Homo sapiens: one gene and its partners. The protein of the gene in region 1 interacts with the protein of each later gene in a biochemical or structural test. Each region holds a gene or a part of one and is shown in the gene's direction. Other genes may lie near its edges. The genes, in order: EPN1, HIP1R, EPS15 and REPS2.

Region 1 (7,779 bases):
CACCCTGCTGTCCGTGCACCCTGCTGTCCGTGCACCCTGCTGTCCCGTGCACCCTGCTGTCCCTGCACCCTGCTGTCCGTGCAGCTGTTAGAGGACCTGCATGCCGTATTGAGTCGGGGCAGGGGCCGCATTCCTGGGTGTACTGTTCGTTCAGGGTGGTCAAGGTCAAGAGGTGGCAGTGAGCAGGTGAGTGAGCGAGGTGGTGGGGCCAGGGCTGAGTGGCAGGCCTTGGAGGGCTGCCTGGGTCTTGGAACGACCGCTTATTTTGAGCCAGATGGGAGGGAAGCAATACTGAGAGGCCTCCAGGGTGGTCACGCCTGGCAGATGGAAATGACCCCACATAGTGAGGTTGGGGGTGGGTGCGGAGGCACAGCAGGTACTTCCCCTGGCCCTGGCTTCCCTGCTGAGCCCTGCAGGGCAGGATGTGGATCAGCAGGAGGGCAGAGAGGGTGCTGTGGACAGGAGGGCTTGCCGGGAGCTGGCAGGGTTGGTCTTGCCAAAGCGATGCCACAGCCAGGTTTGTCAGGACCAAGGCTGGCTCTGCAGGGCCAGATCGGGCGTGGGGGCCTTCTTATGTCATGGAAGCAGCTCGGCTTTCCCCTGGAGTTGGTGGCCTTTTGAAGGAGAAAACAGGACTGTGGTGGTGGCATTTTTGAGGTGATTGTGGCTGCAGTTGGGAAAATGAATGAGGTCTCCCGCAATAATCTGGTGAAAGATGGTGATCTGATTTAAAGTAGTAGCAGGGGATGGAGAGAAGTTGATGGATTTGAGGGAGACTTGTGCCTGGGAAGTGTCCAGACTTTGGTGATGGGTGTGGGTTTGTGGGGAGGGGAGGAGAAGGCCTATGAGCTGCTTAGTGGCAGCTCTGATGGTGGGGATGGCAGGTGAGATGCAGGGGTGATGAGCACCTTGTCGGGGGTGAGCGGGGGGTGGGGGGCAGCTAGCTGGCTTTGCGGTTTCTGAGACACCCAGTAGAGATGTCAAGGAAAAATTAGCTGGACAGGTCTGTGTTCCCAGCATGAGGGCTGATGGACACTCAGGTGTCTGTCGAGGCCCTGCTTGGGATGTCGGAGTGGTTTGCCCAGGGAGAGCAGGGTTGGGGAGGGCGGCTGGAGAGGTGGAAGGAGCATCTTAGAAAAGGGGCATGGGGAAGGCCAACGGCATCTCCTCTCACTGCAGCTCCTGCCCACTGCCCTCCAGAGTCCCCTTCCCTTGAGCTGGTATGTCAGGGCTGCTCAGGGCTGCCCTCTGGTGCTGGGATGGAGCTTGGCTCAAGCAGGGGCTGAGGAAACATTTGTGGGAAGAAGGAATGGAGAGACCCTGGCCTTTGGGATCAGCTGACCTGTTTTGCATATTAAATTTATTGCATCGGCGGCCCGGCGAGGTGGCTCACGCCTGTAATCCCAGCACTTTGGGAGGCCGAGACGGGCGGATCATGAGGTCAGGAGTTGGAGACCAGCCTGGCCAATGTGGTGAAACCCCATCTCTACTAAAAAATACAAAAATTAGCCAGGCATGGTGGCGGTGCGTGCCTGTAATCCCAGCTACTCAGGAGTCTGAGGCAGGAGAATTACTTGAACCCGGGAGGCGGAGGTTGCAGTGAGCCAAGATTACGCCACTGCACTCCAGCCTGGGTGACAGAGCAAGACATGGTCTCAGAAAAAAAAAAAAAAAATTACTGCATTGTATTGTTTTATTCTTAAATTTTTTGTTACATGTCTTTTCAAATATACTTAAAAGTAGGGACTATGATAGTGATACGTTTTTATCATAGTATATGTGCTAATATTTTGGTGTTCCTTCATCTGGCTTCAAGTTACCAATATTTTGTCATTCTTAATTTTCATATTCAGCTTATTTCTCCCCCCTCCTTTTTCTTTGCTGGATTATTTTAAGGCTTATCAGGTTTATTTCACCTGAGATCCTTAAGTATATTTCTATTATTTCTCAATTAACATTTTGGGTCAGATAACTTCTCTGTGGGGGCCTTTGCTGTGCGTTGTAGGATATTGAGATGTATCCCCAGCCTCCACCCACCGGATGCAAGAGCACTACTCCCTGCTGAGACACCCAAAAGCATCTCCAAAGATTGCTCAGTGTTCCCTGGGGACACCCCCCCTCCTCCAGTTGACAACCACTGCTCTAACCAGATAACCTTAAAAAATTGTTTTGTTTTTTTAACAAAACCACAATAGCATGATTAGATTAGCGAAATTCCTTAGTGCCTATTCCATGTTCAAATTTTTCTATCTCAAGAATTTTTTTTTTTTTTTTTGAGACAGAGTCTCGCTGTTGCCCAGGCTGGAGTGCAGTGTGCCCGCCACCACACCTGGTTAATTTTTTTTGTATTTTTAATAGAGACAGGGTTTCACCGTGTTAGCCAGGATGGTCTCGATCTCCTGACTTTGTGAGCCGCCCGTCTTGGCCTCCCAAAGTACTGGGATTACAGGCGTGAGCCACCGCGCCCGGCCAATAATTTTTTTTTTTTTGAGACGGAGCCTCACTCTGTCACCCAGGCTGGAGTGCAGTGGCGCAATCTCGGCTCACTGCATCCTTCACCTCCCGAGTTAAAGAAGAGTAGCTGGGACAGGCACCCGCCATCATGTCTGGCTAATTTTTGTATTTTTGGTAGAGATGGGGTTTCGCTATGTTGGCCATGCTGGTCTTGAACTCCTGACCTCAGGTGATCCATCTGCCTCAGCCTCCCAAAGTACTGGGATTACAGGCGTGAGCCACTGTGCCCAGCCGAGGATATTTTTTATAGTTTGTTTCAGTAAGGATCCATATCAGGTCCCTGCCTTGAATTTGGTTACAAAGTTTGTGTAATTTATCCTTTGTACCTCACTCCCTCTTTTTTTTTTTTGCAAGCTCTTTTATTTGTAGAAGAAATAAGTTCATCTGCTATATAGAATTTTCAGTGTTCGTGTAGGCTCATTGTATCCTTCCCTCCCTCCATTTTCCTGTAAATTGGTTTAAGCAAGGTTAGAAGCTCGAATAGATCAAGGTTCAAGTTTTTAAATTTTATTCAACCTGGGTTTGAATCCTAATTTCTGAGCTTCCCTTAGTTCACTTATTGTTGGGAGAACATGGCTGTTGGGGTGGTTCTGGGAGCGCCCACCATGGTGGCTCGTGTGGAGTAGACACTCAGCACGAGGGACCCCTCCCCCGCGGTGAGCTCGTCTAGGCCTCCCGCCTGCGCTCTATGGCTCTGCTGAGTTTCTGGCATGTCTCTATTCTTTCTCCCTCTCCATGCCTATGGTGTGTTTATGCTCTTGTTTTTTGATCCTGGAGAATATTTGGGTGAACTCCACCAAACCTGCTTACTAAGGGTCCCTTTCTGACACCTGTGGCGAAGCCCCCTCCTCCCTGTCCCTTCCTGCCTTCAGTGCTGGGGTTGGGTGGACGCTGACTGGCTGTTGGGCGTGAGCCTTGTTCACAAACCTGCCTCTCCTTTCCCCACAGATCTTTGTGGAGTTCACCTCTGTGTTTGACTGCCAGAAAGCCATGCAGGGCCTGACGGGCCGCAAGTTCGCCAACAGAGTGGTTGTCACAAAATACTGTGACCCCGACTCTTATCACCGCCGGGACTTCTGGTAGAGGCGGCTGGGGGAGGGTGGGGGCAGGGCTGGCTGGGGGCTTCTCCCCACTCCCGCCCCCCCCTTATCCCCCTCTGAAGACGATGGGCAGAGGAGTGACAGCCGCAGACACACGACAGCCGGCAGCAACTGGAATGGCAGCAATTAAGGGTGGGGGGCGGGGGTTGGGGGGTTGGGGGGTTAGGGCAGGGAGGGGACTGGGGAAGTGCGCACACAGCCCACACAGACAACACGCACCCACACAGACACAGAGGGAAGGGGTTGGGATGGGGACAGGGTGCACAGCAGGGCGGGGTAGGACCCCAGCCCCTCCCAAAACAGCCTCTCCTTCTCCCATAGACCCCTTTCTTCTCCCCTTCCCCACGGTAGGAACATAGCGTGTTTATATTTTATGGCCAAACTATTTTGAATTTTGTTGTCCGGCCCTCAGTGCCCTGCCCTCTCCCTTACCAGGACCACAGCTCTGTTCCTTCGGCCTCTGGTCCTCTCTGGTCCCCTCCTGGGTTTCTTACGTAGTTGATTTTTCCTCTTTAGTCTCCCCCGACCTGCGCCCAGCCCCGTGGCCCCTGCCCCTCTCCTACTCTCTGTGGCAGTTTCATATTTGCTAAGACGAATTTGCTCATTAAACATTTTGTTGTATTTTACTTTATGGAGCGGCTGTGTGTCCAGTATGTCCGACCCTCTTCCTCGGTTCTGGGCTCGGGTGGGGGTTCCCTTGGCAAACTGCGGGCCCCTGGCTGGGACGCCCCTGCTGCCGGCGCCGGCAGCCTCGAGGCCTTCCCTGCTTGCGCGGTGCCCTTCTCGGGGTCGGCACAGGCACAGCCCCGGGGGACGTGAGGTTCCCGAGTGCTCTCCCACCCCGCCGACAGGAGGGATGGTGGCCGAGCGGGCCGGGGCGGGCGTGGCGTGGGTGTGCCAGGAGCTCCGCGGTTGCCGCCAAGCGAGCTGGAGCTGACTCTCGGCGTTCCGTGAGCACCGCGCGGATCCCCCGCTGCAGCGGGCGGAAGTGACGTAGAGGCGCCTAGCAACGGGGCCCAGCGCGCCGGAAGTGATGCCTTCCAGGTTGGCTTGGCTGCGGAAGCGACTCCTGCCAGGGCGGGGTGCGGCACGGGAGGGCGGGGAGCGCGGCAATTTCCGCTTCCGGTCCGTCGCCTCCTTCTGTTGCTTCCCGTCTCCTCGGCGGCTCCCCTCCCCCGCCCGGCTCTCCGCGCCCCTTCTGGGCGGCGGGGCGGCGGAGCCGTCGGCGTGCGGCCCTCCTTGCGTTCGTGCGTGCGCCCGTGGCCCGGCGCACGTCCCGCGACACCGAGGCCGAGCGGGGCAGGGGGCTGACCGCCATGACCCCCCAGAGCCCGGCGTGAGGGGGCCGAGGTGAGCGCGGGGCGGAGCGCGGGGGACGCTGGCCCGCCTGCTCCGGGTGTTCGGGCCTGGGCCGCGGCGCGCGCGGGCTCGCGTCTGGCCAGTTCTGGGTGTCTCTGGCGGCCTTTGTGTCTCTGCTCCTGTGTCGGCCTTGACTGCCCCCGTGTCGGTTGTCTGTGTCTGTCTCTCTCGTGTCTGTGTGTCTGTCAGCGTCTGTTTCCTGTGGGCCTCTGCCTGTGCCTGTTTCAGTGAACTTAGAAAAGGGTTTGGAGATAGGAGTGTGTTTGTGTGTCTGTCCCGGGTCTCTCTCTCCTCTGTCTGTCGTGTCTGTGTCTGTCAGGATTTGTTCGTGTCTCGTTGAGTTTCCGAGTCTTCTTTTCCCTAGGTGTCTCTAGCCCTTCCCTGCGGGCTTTTCTGCCTATGGTGCAAATCTTACCCCCGCCCCGTCTTCGCATCTGAGTTTTGCCCCCATACCTATCACCTCCAATCCTGAAGTTTCTTTCCAGGAGTCTGTTAACTTGATCTAGAATCTGCCCCTTTTCCCCAGTTTTCTGAGTCTCTGGTGTGATGGTGAAGAGCCCCAGCCTTGGATTCAGAAGCCCGGCTGCCTGCTAAGCTGTGTAATTGCCAGGTGATAGTCTCTGTGTCAAAACCTCAGTTTCCTAGTCGTAGGAAATCCATAGTTCGTAGGCATTCGTAGTTCCTACATCATAGGGTCCTTGTGCATGTAAGTTGAGGTGATGCTTGTAAAGTGCCTGACGGTATCTGACACATAGCAAGTGTGTAATTACTGGGAGCTCTGGTTTTTATTATTACAGTGCTTAGAGATTTTTACACAGTAAGTGTTAGATATCGGTCGGTTATTGGAGTACTCCTTGGAGAACTTTGCCATATCCTTTGTATTCTTTTTAATGTAAGAATTCTCTTTGAATCAATTTAATTTGAAATACAGTCTCATTCTAAGCAGTATCTGAGAAATCTCAGCTTTGATGTGCTAGTTGGGTAATTTTTTCTAATGCACGCCAAATAAGTACAGAGTATTAAGATAGTGCCTTTTCTGCCGCCACCCTTTTGGAAATGTTCTCTGTTTTTTCTCTGATAATAATAGCAGCCAGTGTTATTGAGCGCCTACTATCTGTGGGGCACAGAGCCAAGCACTGCATGTACCCATCTTATTTAATCAACAGGCCTACCAGGTAGGAATTCTTTCATTTCAGAGTTGAGCAAACTGTGTCTCAAGGAGGTGTGCGCTGCAGGTAGCTGATGTGGCCAGGATTTGAACCCACATTTTATATTCTTTGCCATTAGATTCCATTTTTCTTATCTCTTATTTCTCAGCGCCAGGTCTCTTTTTGTTTCTGGGCCTCTTTCTTCCTTGGCCTCCTGCCTCCCTGTCTTCCCATGTTCTTGTATCTGCTGCTGCCTGTGTTTTTCTCATTGTGTCTCTGCCTAGCTCCCTCTGCCCAGGTTTCTATGTGTCTCTTTCTGTCAGAACTGTCTTCTATTTCTTCTCAGTCCCCTTCTCTGCATTTGTTACATCATCTCTTCATCTTAATGTATTAGGCTGGGGCTGTTTTGGGACTCCAGAGAGTTACTTTTTAACTAGCTACATCTGTCTTCAGGTGCCTGGCTTTCTGGCCTGAGGTGGAAGCAGAGGCCAGCCTCTCTCCGTCATCCCTATCTCCCCTGGGCTTACATCATGGCGGGGCTTTGAAAATCTCCCTCTGTGGCTTCTTGGAGCCGCATAGATGGGTGATCAGAGCTGGCTCTGGAACCAGGCTGCTCCAGGAGTAAGGTGTGTGTCCCTGGGCAAGGGGCTGAACCTCTGTGTCTCAGTTTCCACCCTGTGAGGTGGCTATGAATCATGGGGTTGTTTCAAGGATTAACTGAGTTAATACATGTAAAGCACTTAAAACAGTGCCTGGCATGGGATAAGAGCAGTGCGAGTGTCTGCTGGTGTCATCATCATTTGCTTGACTCTCTTGTTTCTCGTCACCAGTCTCGGGATGGGTTAATTTAATTTAGGTTAATTTAAAAGTATGAGTTTTGGAGTTCAGGTGGGCCTCGGGTTGAGTCTGCCCTGCCATTCCTGGTGTGTGACCTTGGTTGAATTATTTAACTTCCAGGAGCCCAGTCTTTGCATGCAGTGTTGAAAAAGGTAATGTCCCTCTTGTGCTGAGCGAGCACCTGGCACACAGCAGGGACCCAGGCAGTGGGGCTGTTAGGTTCCTTATCTCTCCTGAGCCTTGGGCTTCCGCTATCCTTGGGACGTCTGGTCTTCTGGCTTCCCCGGTTCTTCCTGCCGCCCTGGGTTGGTTCCCTGCTCCTGCCTCTGTCTTTAATCCCTTCATCAGCCTTCTTTCCCATGTGTCCTTGTTTCTGCTGTGGATTCCTGCCCCCTCTGCCCTTGTTCCAGAGGTCTTTCCTGCCCTCCCTCTCCACTTCCTCCTTGCATGGTTTACTGAATGGTTTTTCTGGGCCAGCTTCTTTGCTGGGAAAAGCCACATGCAGACAGACATGTTCTCTGCCCCCATGGGGCCTGTGGGTTGACCTTAGCTACAGAATCAGACGAGAATATAAAATCATGAGGGAGACTGAGTTTACTGATGAGGCCCCAGGGATAGGTGACTGTGATGTTTGGGTGTGCACCTGGGAAGTGTAAGCAGAGCCCTTGGGGTGAGTGGATATCCCTGGATGAGGAAGAAGGAAGAGCGCATGGGCAGGACGGAGGGCCTCCTGATGCGCTGCCGGTGTTTACAGGGCGTCAGTTCTCTAGATGACCGCATGGAGCCCCATTTGACAGAAGAGAAAGCTGAGGTGCAAAAGA
Region 2 (4,036 bases), on another chromosome or scaffold:
CCAAGAGCCTAGATGTGCGGCAGGAGGAGCTGGGGGCCGTGGTCGACAAGGAGATGGCGGCCACATCCGCAGCCATTGAAGATGCTGTGCGGAGGATTGAGGTGAGCACGGGATCTGGGGACTCCCCTCATTCCTGTGGAGCTTTGGGGGCCGGAGGCCCCAACTGGGCTGGGTACAGGCTGCACCCACTCCTGCTCTCAGCCTCCAGACAGAGGACAGATGGCGTTTTCCAGGGGCCTGTGAGGTCAGAGCTGAGAGGGCAGGAGGCAGCCCTGGCTTTCCCAGGACCACGGTCCCCTCCTCCCAGCCAGCTCACGGCTCTGTTCTTGGGTGCAGGACATGATGAACCAGGCACGCCACGCCAGCTCGGGGGTGAAGCTGGAGGTGAACGAGAGGTGAGCCCCCCTTCTGTCCCCCCAGGCCCAGCCGAGGTGGGCTCCCCGTGGCCCCTAAGGTTCTGCCCCCAACTGTTCTGCTCACGGGAAAGGAAGGCCTGGCTCAGAGCAGACACTCCCTCCCCACCTGCTGAGCCCTGATGTGGCCAGGCCCGCCATGGCGTCGTGTGGGCTGCTCTGCAGAGCGGCAGCTAAGTCTCTCCTTCTCTCCCCCAGGATCCTCAACTCCTGCACAGACCTGATGAAGGTGAGGGGCTGTGACCCGGGGGGGTCTGCACCTGGAGGGCCACCAGTCATTGCTGTCTTGGTCTCGGCAGGCTATCCGGCTCCTGGTGACGACATCCACTAGCCTGCAGAAGGAGATCGTGGAGAGCGGCAGGGTGAGGGGCCGGCGGCAGCAGGGCACAGTCCACAAGGAGCCTGACCCCCAGCCTAGGCCACCCTGGGCATGAGACCCTCCACCCCCTACCACAGGGAGGCCTCAGGGATGCGCCCTATGGCCAGAGTGAGGGGGAGAGGGCCCTTGAGGGCCACTTTCCACCTTTGGTGTCCTTGACTGGCATGTCCTGCCCTGTTCTCCCGTCGCCACTAGGGGGCAGCCACGCAGCAGGAATTTTACGCCAAGAACTCGCGCTGGACCGAAGGCCTCATCTCGGCCTCCAAGGCTGTGGGCTGGGGAGCCACACAGCTGGTGTAGGTTGCCCTGGGTGGGGGGGGGCAGGGGGCTGCTTCCTGCCAGTTGGAGCAGTTTGGGGTTCAACAGGGTGCAGGGAGTAGAGGGGGTGTGGAGTGGTGCCAGCCGTCCGTGGGGTCAGAGACCCTGGCCCTGACTGGCCCTTGACCCGCAGGGAGGCAGCTGACAAGGTGGTGCTTCACACGGGCAAGTATGAGGAGCTCATCGTCTGCTCCCACGAGATCGCAGCCAGCACGGCCCAGCTGGTGGCGGCCTCCAAGGTGAGCTTGCACGCCGACAGCAGCACACTGGGCTCTGGGCCCAGCTTGGCCTGGGCTGTGGCTGCCAAGCCCAGGCCTGCTGCTGCCCTGAGCTGGGAGACCTGGGCCCACCCTGACCTCTCGCCCCTCAGGTGAAGGCCAACAAGCACAGCCCCCACCTGAGCCGCCTGCAGGAATGTTCTCGCACAGTCAATGAGAGGGCTGCCAATGTGGTGGCCTCCACCAAGTCAGGCCAGGAGCAGATTGAGGACAGAGGTGAGTGCCAGATGCCAACGGGGGCTGCTGGCTCCCGAGGCTGAATGGGGGTGGGTGCCCAGATGTTCACCCCCTTGTCCTCCGGCCACAGACACCATGGATTTCTCCGGCCTGTCCCTCATCAAGCTGAAGAAGCAGGAGATGGAGACCCAGGTAGGCGCCCATGGCTGCCCCGTGACCTCTGAGCTCATCCCTCGGGCGAAGCCTGGACCCAGGAGAGAGCTCCCTGGGGAGGCTGGGCTGGGCTGAGCAGGCCGTGTGGCTACAGGTGCGTGTCCTGGAGCTGGAGAAGACGCTGGAGGCTGAACGCATGCGGCTGGGGGAGTTGCGGAAGCAACACTACGTGCTGGCTGGGGCATCAGGCAGCCCTGGAGAGGAGGTGGCCATCCGGCCCAGCACTGCCCCCCGAAGTGTAACCACCAAGAAACCACCCCTGGCCCAGAAGCCCAGCGTGGCCCCCAGACAGGACCACCAGGTGCCGTCTGCACTGGGATGGGGGAGTTCCTGGACGGGGGTGCTGTCCCCAGCCCTAGAGGGGCACATGGTGCACGTCCCTGGGGAAGTCAGGGACCACTGACAACATGCAGGGAGGAGCTTGCTCAAGGGAGAGGTGGGGCCCCAGGTGCCTGGCTGTGACCACTGACCCCCCACCTTTAACCCCTGCAGCTTGACAAAAAGGATGGCATCTACCCAGCTCAACTCGTGAACTACTAGGCCCCCCAGGGGTCCAGCAGGGTGGCTGGTGACAGGCCTGGGCCTCTGCAACTGCCCTGACAGGACCGAGAGGCCTTGCCCCTCCACCTGGTGCCCAAGCCTCCCGCCCCACCGTCTGGATCAATGTCCTCAAGGCCCCTGGCCCTTACTGAGCCTGCAGGGTCCTGGGCCATGTGGGTGGTGCTTCTGGATGTGAGTCTCTTATTTATCTGCAGAAGGAACTTTGGGGTGCAGCCAGGACCCGGTAGGCCTGAGCCTCAACTCTTCAGAAAATAGTGTTTTTAATATTCCTCTTCAGAAAATAGTGTTTTTAATATTCCGAGCTAGAGCTCTTCTTCCTACGTTTGTAGTCAGCACACTGGGAAACCGGGCCAGCGTGGGGCTCCCTGCCTTCTGGACTCCTGAAGGTCGTGGATGGATGGAAGGCACACAGCCCGTGCCGGCTGATGGGACGAGGGTCAGGCATCCTGTCTGTGGCCTTCTGGGGCACCGATTCTACCAGGCCCTCCAGCTGCGTGGTCTCCGCAGACCAGGCTCTGTGTGGGCTAGAGGAATGTCGCCCATTACTCCTCAGGCCTGGCCCTCGGGCCTCCGTGATGGGAGCCCCCCAGGAGGGGTCAGATGCTGGAAGGGGCCGCTTTCTGGGGAGTGAGGTGAGACATAGCGGCCCGGGCGCTGCCTTCACTCCTGGAGTGAGTTTCCATTTCCAGCTGGAATCTGCAGCCACCCCCATTTCCTGTTTTCCATTCCCCCGTTCTGGCCGCGCCCCACTGCCCACCTGAAGGGGTGGTTTCCAGCCCTCCGGAGAGTGGGCTTGGCCCTAGGCCCTCCAGCTCAGCCAGAAAAAGCCCAGAAACCCAGGTGCTGGACCAGGGCCCTCAGGGAGGGGACCCTGCGGCTAGAGTGGGCTAGGCCCTGGCTTTGCCCGTCAGATTTGAACGAATGTGTGTCCCTTGAGCCCAAGGAGAGCGGCAGGAGGGGTGGGACCAGGCTGGGAGGACAGAGCCAGCAGCTGCCATGCCCTCCTGCTCCCCCCACCCCAGCCCTAGCCCTTTAGCCTTTCACCCTGTGCTCTGGAAAGGCTACCAAATACTGGCCAAGGTCAGGAGGAGCAAAAATGAGCCAGCACCAGCGCCTTGGCTTTGTGTTAGCATTTCCTCCTGAAGTGTTCTGTTGGCAATAAAATGCACTTTGACTGTTTGTTGTCACTGATGCCCCAGAGGGAGGGGCTGTGCCTGGCTCTTCATTCCTCCAGGGACACGTGTTCCCTTGTCGGCCCTGGCCAGGTGCTGGGGCGGGGACCTATTCATGTCTGCATTTAATGCTAGAGTACTTGGGACTGCAGAAAAGCTCAGCAGGGCTGTCACTGGCTGTGTGTGTGTCCGCCTTCCATCTCTCTCTCGGGGGATTTATGGGCCTCAGGGCCCTCCTTTTACACAGGAGGCCAAGAGCCAGCTGCCTCCACAGAGGCCACTTGCACTCCCAGCCTCAATGCCCACAGCTTCCCTGGGGCTCCTAGCAGTTGCTGACCCCCTCAGTGTGTCTGAGACCATGCCTGACTGACAGTTGCTAAGCTAAGGTGGGGACCCTGACTCCCGGCTGGCTTGGACTTGAGCCATGGCCACACACAGCCTTTGCACTTACCGGAAACCTGGAAAGGTGTTCAGTCCCTGGGTGTGTGGCAGCCTCACAAGCACCCACTTTACCCAGGAGCACCA
Region 3 (7,031 bases), on another chromosome or scaffold:
GCCTCAGCCTCCCGGGTTTAAGCTATTCTCCTGCCTCAGCCTCCCGAGTAGCTGGGACTACAGGCGTGTGCCACCACACCTGGCTAATTTTTTGCATTTTTAGTAGAGACGGGGTTTCACCGTGTTAGCCAGGAAGGTCTCGATCTCCTGACCTTGTGATCTGCCTGCCTCGGCCTCCCAAAGTGCTGGGATTACAGGTGTGAGCCACTGCATCCGGCCTGCCCCTACTACTTCTTAAGTCTTTCACCCACTCGTCTAAATGAAGAAGACAATGGGAAGCCATTGAAGGACTTTTAACCAGAAGGGTCACGATCACATCCACATTTTAGAGCTATTAGTTTGGCTACAATAAGGAGAAGAGATTGGAAATACATGTATTGGAGGCAGGAAAGCAGTTGGAAGGAAGACTGCTATAGTAATTGGAACCAAAGATGATAGTACTATAAGTGATTGATAGTGACAGTGAGGATGGAGAAGAAGGCAAGGATTTGAAAAAGAGGTAAGAGGTAGACTGAGCAAGACTTGGAGTCATATTCTGAGGATTAAAGATGACCTGAAGGTTTCTGACATGAGTGACTTTGATGCTTGATGACACCATTTCCCTAAAAAAGATTATAGAAGGAGAAGTTATTTGATGAATACATTCTGCTTGTCTTTTTTTATTTTTAAATAGTTTTTGGTTATCTTTAGTCAGTTTTCTCTGCCATGTCAAAAAGTATATTGTTAATCTACTTGCATTAATATTTTGTAGGCAAGAAGTAGTCCTGAACTACTGCCTTCTGGTGTGACTGATGAAAATGAGGTGACTACAGCTGTTACTGAAAAAGTTTGTTCTGAACTCGACAATAATAGACATTCAAAAGAGGTAAAAAATGATTTTATATTTACATTGGGGACTTGTAAGGGTGGAAGGACAGGAGGAGGTGAATTATCAGACATTACTTAATGGGTACAATATACATTATTCAGATGATAGATACATCAAAAGCCCCGACTTCACCTTTAGGCAATATAGCCATGTAACAAAATTCCACTTGTGCCCCTTGAATTTATACATATAAAATAAATAAATGTTCTTAATAGCTGGATGTGGTGGCAAGTGCCTGTAGTCCCAGCTACTCAGGAGGTGAAGTAGGTGGATTGCTTGAGCCTGAGTTGGAGGCACTAGGCAACATAGAGGGACCTAATCTCTAAAAATTAAATGATATTTTAAAAAAATGTCCTTATCACTGTTTTCCTCAGATGAATTATACACTATTTTAGGTGAAGGAAAGAGAAAAATATGTTAAGGTGAAGGAAAGAGAAAAATGTGTTAAAGGTGCTTTATGACTAGAGAGATATTTGTTACATTACCATCAGTTGATTTTCCTTTTGTTTTCAAGACCAAGTCTCACTCTGTCACCCAGCCTTGAGTGCAGTAGTGTGATCTTGGCTCACTGCAACCTCCACCTCCCAGGTTCAAGCAATTCTCCTGCCTCAGCCTCCTGAGTAGCTGCACATGCCCAGCTAATTTTTGTGTTTTTGGTAGAGACGGGGTTTCACCATTTTGGCCAGGATGGTCTCTATCTCTTGACCTTGTGATCTGCCCACGTCAGCCTCCCAAAGTGCTGGGATTACAGGTGTGAGCCACCGTGCCTGGCCCATCAGTTGATTTTTCAAAGCATGTGTATGACCTGAATGTGTGTTATTTTATTTTAAAATGTTACCTTTTAAAACTTTGGTTTCTAAAAAATAATTTTAATTTAAAATTATTTTTAGGAAGATCCATTTAATGTAGACTCAAGTTCGCTGACAGGTCCAGTTGCAGATACAAACTTGGATTTTTTCCAGTCTGATCCTTTTGTTGGCAGTAAGTACTCTTTTTTTTATATTATAGATTTACCCAAAAAAAAGACTTTTTAATATATAAACTAAGGATTCAAGGCTTCAGTTTCAATAGCCTACCAACTCAGTCTGTCGCCCAGGCTGGAGTGCAGTGGCACGATCTCGGCTCACTGCAACCTCCGCCTCCTGGGTTCAAGCGATTCTCCTGTCTCAGCCTCTTGAGTAGCTGAGACTACAGGCGCCCACCACCACACCCAGCTAATTTTATGTATGTATGTATGTATGTATGTGTGTATTTATTTATTTATGTAATTAATTTATTTAGAAATGGAGTCTCGCTCTGTCGCCAGGCTGGAGTGCAGTGGCACAATCTCGGCTCACTGCAACTTCTGCCTCCCGGATTCAAGCTAATCTCCTGCCTCAGCCTCCTGAGTAGTTGGGATTGCAGGTGCCTGCCACCACACCCAGCTAACTTTTGTGTTTTTAGTAGAGGCGGGGTTTCACCATGTTGGCCAGGATGGTCTCCATCTCTTGACCTCGTGATCCGCCCACGTTGGCCTCCCAAAGTGCTGGGATTACAGGCGTGAGCCACCGCGTCTGGCCTAATTTTTGTATTTTTAGTAGAGACTGGGTTTCACCATTTTGACCAGGCTGGTCTTGAACTCCTGATGTAAGGTGATCCGCCTGCCTCGGCCTTCTAAAGTGCTGGGATTACAGGTGTGAGCCACTGCGCCTGGCCTGCTTTGTATTTTCCTACTGACTAATGTTGAACATCTTTCTAGATGCTTATTAGCCATTTGTGTATCTTCTTTGGAAAAGTGTTTATTCAATTTTGGTGAAGTCCAGTTATCTATTTTTTCTTCTGTCACTTGTGCTTTTGGTGTCATCTAAGAAACTATTACCTAAGTCGCAAAGATTTAATGCTGTCTTTGTCTAAGAGTTTTATAGTTTTGCTGTTACAGTTAGATCTTTGATCCATTTTGAGTTTATTTTTGTATATGATGTGAGATAGAGGTCGAGCTTCATTCTTTTGCAAGTGGATATCCAGTTGTCCTAACACCATTTGTTGAAAAGACTGTCCTTTCTCCATTTTGTGTTCTTGATACGCTTGTCAAAAATCAAATGACCATAAAGGTAAGGATTTATTTCTGGACTCTTCAATCCTGTAAGAATTTTTTTTTTTTTGCTTCAGTAAAGCTCAGTACCTTTATTTCTGAACTGGTGATGATAATACCCTCCCAGTACTCTTGTGGAGAGTAGAGATTTTGTTAGTAAAATTTTTGCTGTAATGTCTTCCCCTCCATCCGTAACCTCAACTTGTGATCAAGGTAAGTATAGTTGGCTGTATATTTCATAAGGTCAATGACATTCCTTATTTTATCTACTGTGAAGTGAAGTTATTGAAATAAACTTTGCTTTGCTTTTGTTTGAAAGTTACTCTTTAAGTAGTGGTGTCACCACAGTAAATATTGTTATTTGGATTTCTTTGTGTTTATTTTATCACAGGTGATCCTTTCAAGGATGATCCTTTTGGAAAAATCGGTCAGTATCTTATTGAGTTTCATCTTAGCTTTCATTCATTTCTGCTTAATAATAAGCTTATGTTATTTAGGTCTGAAACTGAAGCCCCAGTAAGATGCTCTATGTGCCTGGCATTTTCAGAAAGAGAGTAGTAAATTCTTTTGATTTTGCTTAATGAATTGTTGCTTTACTTTTACTTCTTCTTTTTTTTTTTTTTTTTTTTTTTGGTGTTTTTTGTTTTTGAGACAGGGTCTTATTCTGTCACCCAGGCTGGAATGCAGTGGTGTGATCATGGCTCACTGCAGCCTTGACTTCCTGGGCTCAAGCAATCCTCCTGCCTCAGCCTCCTGAGTACCTAGGTCTACAGGCTCATGCCAGCATACTTGACTGATTTTTTTTTATTTTTTGTAGAGACAGGGTCTCACTGTGTTGCCGAGGTTGGTCTCGAACTCCTGGGCTCAAGCAGTCCTCCTGCCTCAGCCTCCCAAAGTGCTGCGATTACAGACAGGTGTGAGCGACTGTGCCCGATAGCTTTACTTTTTTAAAAATGACATTAGTGTTTAGACTTTGGTGCTTTAAATATTTATTCTGATTCCTCCTTACTAACTAAAGGTTTGGTGAGCATAATGATCTATACTGCTTCAGGGTTTAGAATGTAATTTTGTTTTCCTAAGATTATAGCCCACACGTGTGATTAGAGGCAGAGAATCTTGAAGAATTACTAAAACATCAGGCTTTTTGAGATATTCTTTTTCTGGGAATTTTCATTAGAATAATGCAAATCTTGTTTACCATTTAGTTTTGCATCCCAAACCTGTTCTAAACTATTGGCTGTTAGCTTTGAGCTCAGAGAGAAAAATACATTTAGAAGTTTTTATTGTGTTTTCTTTAGTTACGGTAGCGTAGAATAAGGGGACTTAAAATTGGATCCCTTGAAATTATATGTTAATTTTAAAAATAAGTTTATTAGGTGGAAGGTTCTGTATCTTTTATCAAAATTGCAAAGGAGTCTGTGAAATAAAAAGTACTCAGCTTAGATTCTACAGTATTTCAAACTGTCTTTTTGGATTTTTTTTTTGAGACAGTCTTGCTCTGTTGCCCAGGCTAGAGTACAAGTAGTGCGGTCTTGACTCACTGCAACCTCCGCCTCCCATGCTCAAGCTATTATTCTCATGCCTCAGCCTCCCGAATAGCCAGGATTACGGGCGCGCACCACCACGCCTGGCTAATTTTTGTATTTTTAGTAGAGACAGGGTTTCACTGTGTTAGCCAGGCCGGTCTTAAACTCCTGAGCTCAAGTCATCCGTCTACCTCAACCTCCCAAAGTGCTGGAATTACAGGTGTGAGCCACTGCACCTGGCCCAAACTGTCTTTTTGTTTGTTTGTTTTTGAGACAGGGTCTCACTGTCACCCAGGCTGGAGTGCAGTGGCAGATCTTTGCTCACTGCAGCCTCTGCCTCACAGGTTCAAGTGAGTCTCCCACCTCAGCCTCCCGAGTAGCTGGGACTATAGGTGCGCACCACCATGCCTGGCTAATTTTTGTGTTTTTTAGTAGAGAGGAGGTTTTGACATGTTGGGCAGGCTGGTCTTGAACTCCTGACCTCAAGTGATCTGCCTGTCTCAGCCTCCCAAAGTGGTGGGAATGCAGACGTGAGCCACTGCACCTGGCCCCAGACTGTCTTTTAATTAAGGCACTGATCATACCTTCAAGTGATGGGAAATTTAGTGCAATAATTTTTTTTTGTCTCTTATATTCGTGCCTTATTTTTTTAGATCCATTTGGTGGTGATCCTTTCAAAGGTTCAGATCCATTTGCATCAGACTGTTTCTTCAGGCAATCTACTGATCCTTTTGCCACTTCAAGCACTGACCCTTTCAGTGCAGCCAACAATAGCAGTATTACATCGGTAAGTGGGAGAATTAAAAACTGTTAAGTTAAATGGATAATAAGTGTCCTAAGCAAGTTTCTTGAAATACATAGTGATGAAAGAACCCTCATTTAGATTACTTCTAATGGACCATATAAGAATTTCAGTCTCATCCCAATTCATTTAGTTTTTGGTTCAGACTGGTATTTCATAGTTTGATTACCCACTGGAATTAACTGGAATGACTGAACGGAGTCCAAAAGTGATGTTCATCTTTCAAGAGACTAAATCTTATCCTATTGAGGATACTAAAAATGATTGGAAATTTATAAGCCAATCTTACATAAAACTTTTCTGAAATGTTTGGTATATTATTGAAATAATGAAAATTAAAAGAATTTTAGAAAAATAAAATCGTTTATGTTATTTCATAGACACATCTGGAATGTTAATTCTGCAAAGTACAAATTCTCACTAAATGTCAAGCTCTCTTGAGAATGTACATACCTACAGCAATCACTGTTTAATAACCACATGCCTGATCCAGGTACTGGTGTGTGCTTTACATTCATTGTTTCTAATCTTCACATCAATTTTGCAAAGTAGGTGTTGATATCCCTATTTTAAAAATGAGGACACTGGGACTTAGAAAAATTAACATGTTTAAGGTCCTATAGCTAGTTGCTGTTTTATCTGGAGGCTTTAAAAAAATCTTCATGGCTGGGCGCGGTGGCTCACGCCTGTAATCCCAGCACTTTGGGAGGCTGAGGTGGGCGGATCACGAGGTCAGGAGATCGAGACCATCCTGGCTAACACGGTGAAAACTCGTCTCTACTAAAAATACAAAAAATTAGCCAGGCGCGGTGGTGGGTGCCTATAGTCCCAGCTACTCAGGAGGCTGAGGCAGGAGAATGGCGTGAACCCGGGAGGCGGAGCTTGCAGTGAGCCGAGATCGCGCCACTGCACTCCAGCCTGGGTGACAGAGCGAGACTCCGTCTCAAAAAAAAAAAAAAAAATCTTCATCTTGTGGATATTTAGAAATACTCAAAGGAGAATAATGTAATGAAATATTTTAACAAGCTTCCATGCATCCATTACCCAATTTCAATAGTTAGGAATGGTTTTGCAGGTTTTTGGTTTTGCTTTTTAATTTGTATTTTGAGACTTCGTTTTTGAGACCACAGTTTCATGTCTGTAGGTAAACTGAACCTATAAAGGACCAGTTAACTGAGAAGCATTTGAAGCAAAAAATTTGTCTTCTAGTACTATTAGATTAAGAATATTTCCTTTAAAATGTAATTGATTATTTTAAAGATAATAGGTTTTGTATTATTGAAAGTTGCTTCTTTTTTGTATTCAGTAAAGAGCTGCTTGGCTAAGAACTGGTGTTTTCCATTGAATAAAAACTGGACAGATACCTTCGTGACTGAATATTTTTCGTTTCCCTGGGCTGCTGGATACTCTGTTTTCCTATAGCACTTAGTTTGCAATGTGGACCCATTTGCCAAATTCTTCTAAAATTGCTGCTACTGGAATTCTTCTCCTCTCACCTTCTTATTCTAGCCTCTCATTCTCCTATCATCTAAAGAGCAAGAAAGCTAAATTAGCTCTTCTAATTTAAAAATGAATACATTCCTCTTGTCCTGTCCCCCATGAGATTTTTCTACCATTTGTTTTACTGACTTTTATTCCCAGTTTTCTAAAGGAATATTGTCCTTGCTTTACAGCTTGTAATTTCACCATTCAAAACAAAAAACCAGATTGGCAATATAATAATAGCTGCAGTTTATCTAATTTCCTCTGTGTGCCAGGGATGGT
Region 4 (7,031 bases), on another chromosome or scaffold:
TGATCCACCCGCCTCAGCCTCCCAAAGTGCTGGGATTACAGGCGTGAGCCACCATGCCTGGCCTTAACATATTTTTTAATAGACTATTTTTTTTTTTCAGAGCAGTTTTAGGTTCACAGCAAAATTTAGCAGAGTACCCATATATCCCCTGCCCCGACACACCCGTAGCTTTCCTTACTCTCAACGTCCCACATCAGAATAATAGAGTTTTTACAATTGATGAACCTACATTGACACCTCATTATTCCCCAAAGTCTATATATTAGGGCTCACTCTTGGTGTTGTACATTCTGTGGGTTTGGACAAATGTATAATGACGGTTCCACCATTGTAGTATCATACAGAATAGTTTCACTGCTCTAAAAATCTGTGCTCTATTGATTCATCCCTCCCTCTCCACTAACATGTGGCAATCACTGATTTTTTTTTTTTTTTTACTGTCCCCATAGTTTTGCCTTTTTTAGAATGTCATATAGTTGGAGTCATACAGTATATAGGCTTTTCACTTTGGCTTCTTTCATGTAGTACTATGCACTTAAAATTCCTTCATGTCTTTTTATGGTTTGGTGGCTCATTTCTTTATAGTGCTGAATAATATTCCATTGTCTGCATGTACTACAATTTATTTATTCACCTACTGAAGGATATCTTGGTTGCTTCCAAGTTTGGGCAATTATGGATAAAGCTGTTATAAACATCTGTATGCAGCCTTTTTTGTTACATGCAGGAGATAAGCTTTTGACTCATTTGGGTAAATAGCAAGGGGCATGATTGCTAGATTGTATGGTGAGAGTATATTTAGTTTTATAAGAAACTGCCAAACTGCTTTCCAAAGTGATTGTACCATTTTGCGTTCCCATCAGCAATGCATTGGTTTCTTTACAGAGTATTTATTTTCCTTTGCTGACTTATTTTAACAGCAGGATTCTAGCACTAGGTGGAAAACGTATATGAGTTTCTGATGTGTGTCAGGTACTGTCCTAGGTGCTGAGGTTATAATAGTGAATCCAACACAATCTCTGTCTTCATGGAGCTTATGTTCTCATGTGAATGTTTTTACACTTCAGAGTTTTTATTTGGTTGAGAAAAGACTTGAAATATAACATCCAAAAATAAAATGTCAGCCTGGTGCTGTGGCGCACGCCTGTAGTCCCAGTGCTTTGGGAGACCAAGGATGGGAGGATTGCTTGAGGCCAGGACTTTGAGATCAGCCTGGGTAACATAGTGAGACCCTGTCTCTACACAAAATAAAATAGCCGGGCATGGTGGCATGCGCTTGTAGTCCTAGCTACTCTGGAGGCTGAGGCAGGAGAATTGCTTGAGCCCAGGAGTTCAAGGTTATAGTGAACTATGATCGCACCATTGCTCTCCAGCGTAGGCAACAGAGCAAAACCCTGTATCAAAATAAAGTAAAATAAGCCTGTCAAACCCAAACCAAATACATGTCAAACCCAGACCTGATTCTTACCACACACTATGCCTTCTAGTAAAATTCTGGCCTTTGAATACCAACAAAATACTTCATAACCTGGGAAACCAACTACTCTAACGTTTGTTGCTCTGTCTTGAAATACTAAACAAAACCATTTACCTGTTCGTAGACATATTTTCTTTTTCTAGTTTAAAAGTATCCCATTCTGCCATTTTCCACCTAGTGCTAGAATCCTGCTCTTAAAATAAGTCAGCACAGGGAAATAAATACTCTATAAAGAGACCAAAAGACCTTTCAAAATAGGCTATGGCCAGGCCCAGTGGCTCACGCCTATAAATCCCAGCACTTTGGGAGTCTGAGGTCGGAGGATTACTTGAGCCCAGGAGTTCTAGACTAGCCTGGGCAAGATGGCAAAACCCCATCTACACACACACACACACACACACACACACACACACACACACACACACACACACACACACACCCCCGCTACCTACCTCTCTCTGGGGCATGCCTGTAGTCCCAGCTATTCTGGAGGCTGAGGTGGGAGGATCCCTTGAGCCCAGGAGTTTGAGGCTGCAATGAGCCATTATGACACCACTGCACTCCAGCCTGGGTGAAAGAGCCAGACCCTGTCTCATAAAATAAATAAGTAAATAAATAAAATATCTACCTTAAAGCAGCAAGTTTTGTATTTGATGTAATGAATTAACAGACCGCTTTATAATATCTATCTTTTAGGATAGTGTCAGTCTCTTGGAATGCTGTGCATGAGTCATCATTAAAATTGGTTTTCATTAAAAAAATTTTTTTAACATATACACATCTTATTGGAGTTTTCTTTTAAAATTCAAAAATGGGAACATTATTTTTTCAAAGCCAAGTAACAGAAGAGTATATAAAAAAGTCAATTTTGTGCATATCTTTTTACATTTTCTATGCTCATGTAAAACATACATGACTTATGTAATTATACACATATGCTCCAGATCTCATCTGTATTAATTTTTTAAATTATACTTTAGTTCTGGGATACACTTGGAGAACGTGCAGTTTTGTTACATAGGTATATATATGTGCCATGGTGATTTGCTGCACCCATCAACCCATCATCTACATTAGGTATTTCTCCTAATGCTATCTCTCCCCTAGCCCTGCACCCCTGAATAGGCCCCGGTGTGTGATGTTTCCCTCCCTGTGTCCATGTTTTCTCATTGTTCAGCTCCCACTTATGAGTGAGAACATGCGGTGTTTGGTTTTCTGTTCCTGTGTTAGTTTGCTGAGAATGATGGTTTCCGGCTTCATCCATGTTGGTTTTCATTTTTGTGATAGTTAATTCTTGGACATTAAGGGGAATAATTATAAAACACTGTTGCTTCCATATCAAGGGAAATCACTGAATGATTAAAAAAAACCCAATAAGTGTTGTCTGATTGTTTAAACAGCTTTCATTGAGGTAAATAAGTAAAACAAAGCTGTGAGAAGTAGGGAATATTTAAACAATTTGTGCGCATGCCCTCACCTTTGGGGAGAAGTCTTTTCTGAAGGCTCTCTTCTGATTTTTTGAAGCAACTGTTTAATCATTAAAGAAAATTATAGGTAAAAGACAAATTCTTGTGAACTTTCGCTCATTGCTAGATTATTAGGCAGAACTATTTTTTAAAAATTTAAATGAAACAACTTTATATTTTTACATCTTTAGATCATATCATTTTGTAACTATACTTTAGGGAAATAGAGGCCAGCATATTAAAACAGTAACTAGGGGCTGGGCAGGGTGGCTCATTGCCTGTAATCCTAGCACTTTGGGAGGCCGAGGCGGGCAGATCAGCTGAGGTCAGGAGTTTGAAACCAGCCTGGCCAACATAGCGAAACCCCATCTCTACTAAAAATACAAAAATTAGCAGGAGAATTGCTTGAACCGGAGAGGCGAAGGTTGCAGTGAGCTGAGATCAGGCCATTGCACTCCAGCCTGGGAGACAAGAGTGAAACTCTGTCTCAAAAACAAACAAACCAAAAAACAAACACACACACACACACACACACACACACACACACACACACACACAAACACACAAACCAGTAACTAGGACTAACTATATGCTGTTTTAGATTGACAGTATTCTTTTTTTCTAAAAGAGAATGAATGCCAGCAGATGTAGGAAGTACCAGAGCTAAACCATTGCCTGGTTAAAAGGAGTACCTCTGCATAATAGTTACTTGTTGACTCTTTTGTAATAAAATATTTCAGGCATGTAAAACTAGACAGTTACCCAAGAAATAACTGTGTATCCACCACTCCGTATAAGTAAAACAGCCCAGCTAGAGTGAAAGCCTGCTATGTCCCCTTCTCTGGTCCCATTCCCCTCCCTCCCTACCCTGGAGTTACCAGAGTCCTGAATTTGGTGTGCATGATTTGAAGATTTCTTTCTACTTTTATTGTATGTATATGTGGATATATATATTTGTGTATATATAAATCACTAAAAAAGATATTATTTTGGATGTCTTTTCAACTTAAGGAATATCGTATTCTGTGTAACCTTCTGCAACTTGCTTTTCCTCTCATTGTTTTGTTTTTGGAATTCATCTTGTTGACACATGTAATTTCAGTTCATTTATGTTTCCTTTTAAAAAATCTTTACTACTTACGTTTACAATGACTCATTGTTACAGTGCGGTAGAGACCCTTATGCCAAAAGGAAGTAGGTGGCATTTTTCCTTATTTATATAGAATGTCACATGACTGGGGGACTGTTCGAAACGTGTATGAAAATTAAGAACACCTTCATAGATAGCAGAATGCACACTTATATTCTTGAGCGTGCTAGGGGATGTTTGAGCTAATTAATTGACTTTCATGGGCTTTCTTTTTTTCTCATCTTTTATTTTTTTGAGACAGGGTCTTGCTGTGTCACCCAGACTGGAATGCAGCAATCTGATCATGACTCACTGTACCCTCAACCTCCTGGGCTCAAGCAATCTTCCTGCCTCAGGCTCCCGAGTAGCTGGGAATACAGGTGTGCAGCACCAAGCCTGGCTAATTTTCTTTTTAAAAATTTGTTGTGGAGATGGTGTCTCATTATGTTGCCCAGCCTGGTCTCAAACTCTTGGGCTCAAGTGATCTCCCGCCTCAGCCTCCCAAAGTGTTGGGATTACAGGTGTGAGCCACCACACCCTGCCATTTTTCATCTTTTTAAAAATGGAACATCTCAAATAAGCAAGTAGATAGAATAATGCATTAAACCCTGCTGCACTTGCCACTCAGGCCCAACAACTGTCAATGCAAGGTTAATTCAATTCCATCTACATTTCTATCTTTGTTCCCTCTCACCTTTGTTATCCTGAAGCAAGTCGCAAACATCATATGGTTCATAGGGCTTATCTTTAAGGAAGGAACCAGGGTGGGCAGAAGGAAATGGAAACATGCAGGGGTTTAGGTTGGCCAGAAAAGGTACCTGTGGCCTATGGTCAAATGGCAAGACTGATGATGGTTCAATACTGTCAAGCCTTTGGCTGTCATGGAGATAGACGTGCTTGAGAACTGATTTAGAATAGTTGGGAAACCTGTAGGGAGATTGAAAAAGTAACCAACTGAAGACCAGGAATACAAGATGGATTTGAATATTGTTCTAGCTTCACACTCCTAAGTAGGGGCTGTCCTATTTTAAGGGTGTAGACAATTGGTTTTGAGGAAATCTTGGGTTGTTTTTGCTAATTATTTATAACTTTTTTTTTTTTTTTTTTTTTTTGAGACAGAGTCTTGCTCTGTCGCCCGGGCTGAAGTGCAGTGGCGCAAGGTCGGCTCACTGCAACCTCCGCCTCCCAGGTTCAAGCAGTTCTCCCTGCCTCAGCCTTCTGAGTAGCTGGGACTACAGGCGCCCACCACCATGCCTGGCTAATTTTTATATTTTTTAGTAGAGATGGGGTTTCGCCATGTTGACTAGGCTGGTCTTGAACTCCTGACCTCAGGTGATCTGCCCACCCTGGCCTCCCAAAGTGCTGGGATTACAGGTGTGAGCCACCGCGCCTGGCCTATTTATAACTTTAAAAAGAGGGTTTGGTTCCTTTCCAGGGTTTTTCAAACTTTCTGTTTGTTTCGTATAGGCAAGTTTCTCATGTTTTGTATTGATGGCATTCTATTATTCATACCTATCTGTTGGTGGGCAACTAATCAACCTGGGTTGCGCAGGACTGAAGGATTTCCTGGGGGCATGGAACTTCAGTCTTCAGACAGTCCTAGGCAAACTGGGATGGTCACCCCCTCTCTTGGTTGCTGCATTAGTTATCTATTGCTCTATAATGAATTACCACAAACTTAGCAGCTTAAAGCAGCACACAGTTATTATCTCCCAGTTTCTGTGGGTTCGGGAGTCTGGACATGGCTCAGTTGGGTCCTCAGCTCAGAGTTTCATAAAGCCACAATCAAGGTGTCTGGAGCTTGGAGTCCTCTGTGGAGGTCCAACACTTGGTTGCAGAATTCAGTTCCTTGTGATTTTAGAACTGAGGCTCTCAACTTCGAGGCTTCCTGCAGTTCCCTCCACATGGCCTTCTCCATAGGCAATTCACAACATGGCTCTTGGCTTCTTCAAGGCCAGCAGGAGAGTGTCTCTCTCCAGTTAGCTCAGACACCTTTGCCATAGTCCATTAGTTAGAAGCAAGTCACAGGTTTTGTCTGCTCTCAAGGGGAGGGGATTATACAAAACAACAGAGACCAGGAGGTGAGAATTTTGCGGGGGACACCTTAGGATCTTTCCACCACACTTGCTTTCCAGGATTTGTCTGAAGTAGAAAATTATTCTGTTGAGCCTTTTTGTGGCCAGAATATACATATGTTTTGCTCAGCCACTAATTTAGAATTCCTTTATCTTTTTAAGAAACATTTTCATGCGTAATTCATCCTAAGTAGAACTGGCAAATATGTAACTTCTTAGGTATTTTCAATTTTAGTCTTTAGGCAATTGTTTTTCCTCTTAACTAGTAGGAGGCAGGAAAAAAAAGTGGAAAAGCAGATGCAAATGCCCTGCCTGGCTACTCCTGCACGCAGTGCTCTAAAGCAGGCCTTCTCAGCCTGGGTTAGTTCAGGGGTCTGTGAATTTAGATGTGGAAAAGAACTACATCTTTTTTTTTTTTTTTACTAACTGCCCTTCCCCCAACTGAAATTGAGCACTTCCTTCTATTATGCATGTAAGCAAAAAACCACAGCAGTTTTTTTTTTTTTTTTTTTTTTTTTTTTTTTTTTTGAGACAGGGTCTTGCTCTGTCACCCAGGCTGGAGTGCAATCTCACAATTTTGGTTCACTGCAACCTGTGCCTCCTGGGCCCAAATGATCCTTCCATCTCAGCCTCCCAAGTAGCTGGGACTACACGTGCATGCCACCACACCCAGCTAATTTTTGTATTTTTTGTAGAAACGGGATTTTGCCATGTTGCCTAGGCAACAGGGTTCACTGCTTTCGGTCAAATGACAGCAATGCTGCTGGCAAGTCCATGGTCAGGAGTGAGATTCCCTCAGGCTGCTGTGGTCCCTCCTCCTCCAGTCTGTCCTGCAGGAAGCTCAGAGTGAATGGATGCTCAGCTGTTTCCTCTGAGACCTCACC

The links.
Region 2: the proteins of EPN1 (region 1) and HIP1R form a complex in vitro, tested with the Homo sapiens proteins (one study listed by BioGRID).
Region 3: the proteins of EPN1 (region 1) and EPS15 form a complex in vitro, tested with the Homo sapiens proteins (4 studies listed by BioGRID and IntAct, with this or other methods).
Region 4: the proteins of EPN1 (region 1) and REPS2 form a complex in vitro, tested with the Homo sapiens proteins (3 studies listed by BioGRID and IntAct, with this or other methods).

What each region holds. Positions count from the first base shown.
Region 1 is NC_000019.10:55,670,472-55,678,250, forward strand, and holds the start of EPN1 (epsin-1), read left to right. Parts: upstream 1-4,754; 5' UTR 4,755-4,964; intron 4,965-6,157; exon of another isoform or gene 6,158-6,700; coding exon of another isoform or gene 6,701-6,747; intron 6,748-7,078; coding exon of another isoform or gene 7,079-7,263; intron 7,264-7,779. Other genes in the region: U2AF2 (splicing factor U2AF 65 kDa subunit), read left to right, coding at 3,463-3,597. UniProt on the Homo sapiens protein: Binds to membranes enriched in phosphatidylinositol 4,5-bisphosphate (PtdIns(4,5)P2). Modifies membrane curvature and facilitates the formation of clathrin-coated invaginations. Regulates receptor-mediated endocytosis.
Region 2 is NC_000012.12:122,859,436-122,863,471, forward strand, and holds the end of HIP1R (huntingtin-interacting protein 1-related protein), read left to right. Parts: coding exon 1-101; intron 102-336; coding exon 337-395; intron 396-611; coding exon 612-642; intron 643-712; coding exon 713-775; intron 776-987; coding exon 988-1,088; intron 1,089-1,243; coding exon 1,244-1,349; intron 1,350-1,480; coding exon 1,481-1,604; intron 1,605-1,695; coding exon 1,696-1,757; intron 1,758-1,872; coding exon 1,873-2,079; intron 2,080-2,270; coding exon 2,271-2,318; 3' UTR 2,319-3,526; downstream 3,527-4,036. UniProt on the Homo sapiens protein: Component of clathrin-coated pits and vesicles, that may link the endocytic machinery to the actin cytoskeleton. Binds 3-phosphoinositides (via ENTH domain).
Region 3 is NC_000001.11:51,397,253-51,404,283, reverse strand, and holds part of EPS15 (epidermal growth factor receptor substrate 15), read left to right. Parts: intron 1-751; coding exon 752-865; intron 866-1,758; coding exon 1,759-1,849; intron 1,850-3,330; coding exon 3,331-3,366; intron 3,367-5,118; coding exon 5,119-5,252; intron 5,253-7,031. UniProt on the Homo sapiens protein: Involved in cell growth regulation. May be involved in the regulation of mitogenic signals and control of cell proliferation. Involved in the internalization of ligand-inducible receptors of the receptor tyrosine kinase (RTK) type, in particular EGFR.
Region 4 is NC_000023.11:16,949,645-16,956,675, forward strand, and holds part of REPS2 (ralBP1-associated Eps domain-containing protein 2), read left to right. Parts: intron 1-7,031. UniProt on the Homo sapiens protein: Involved in ligand-dependent receptor mediated endocytosis of the EGF and insulin receptors as part of the Ral signaling pathway. By controlling growth factor receptors endocytosis may regulate cell survival.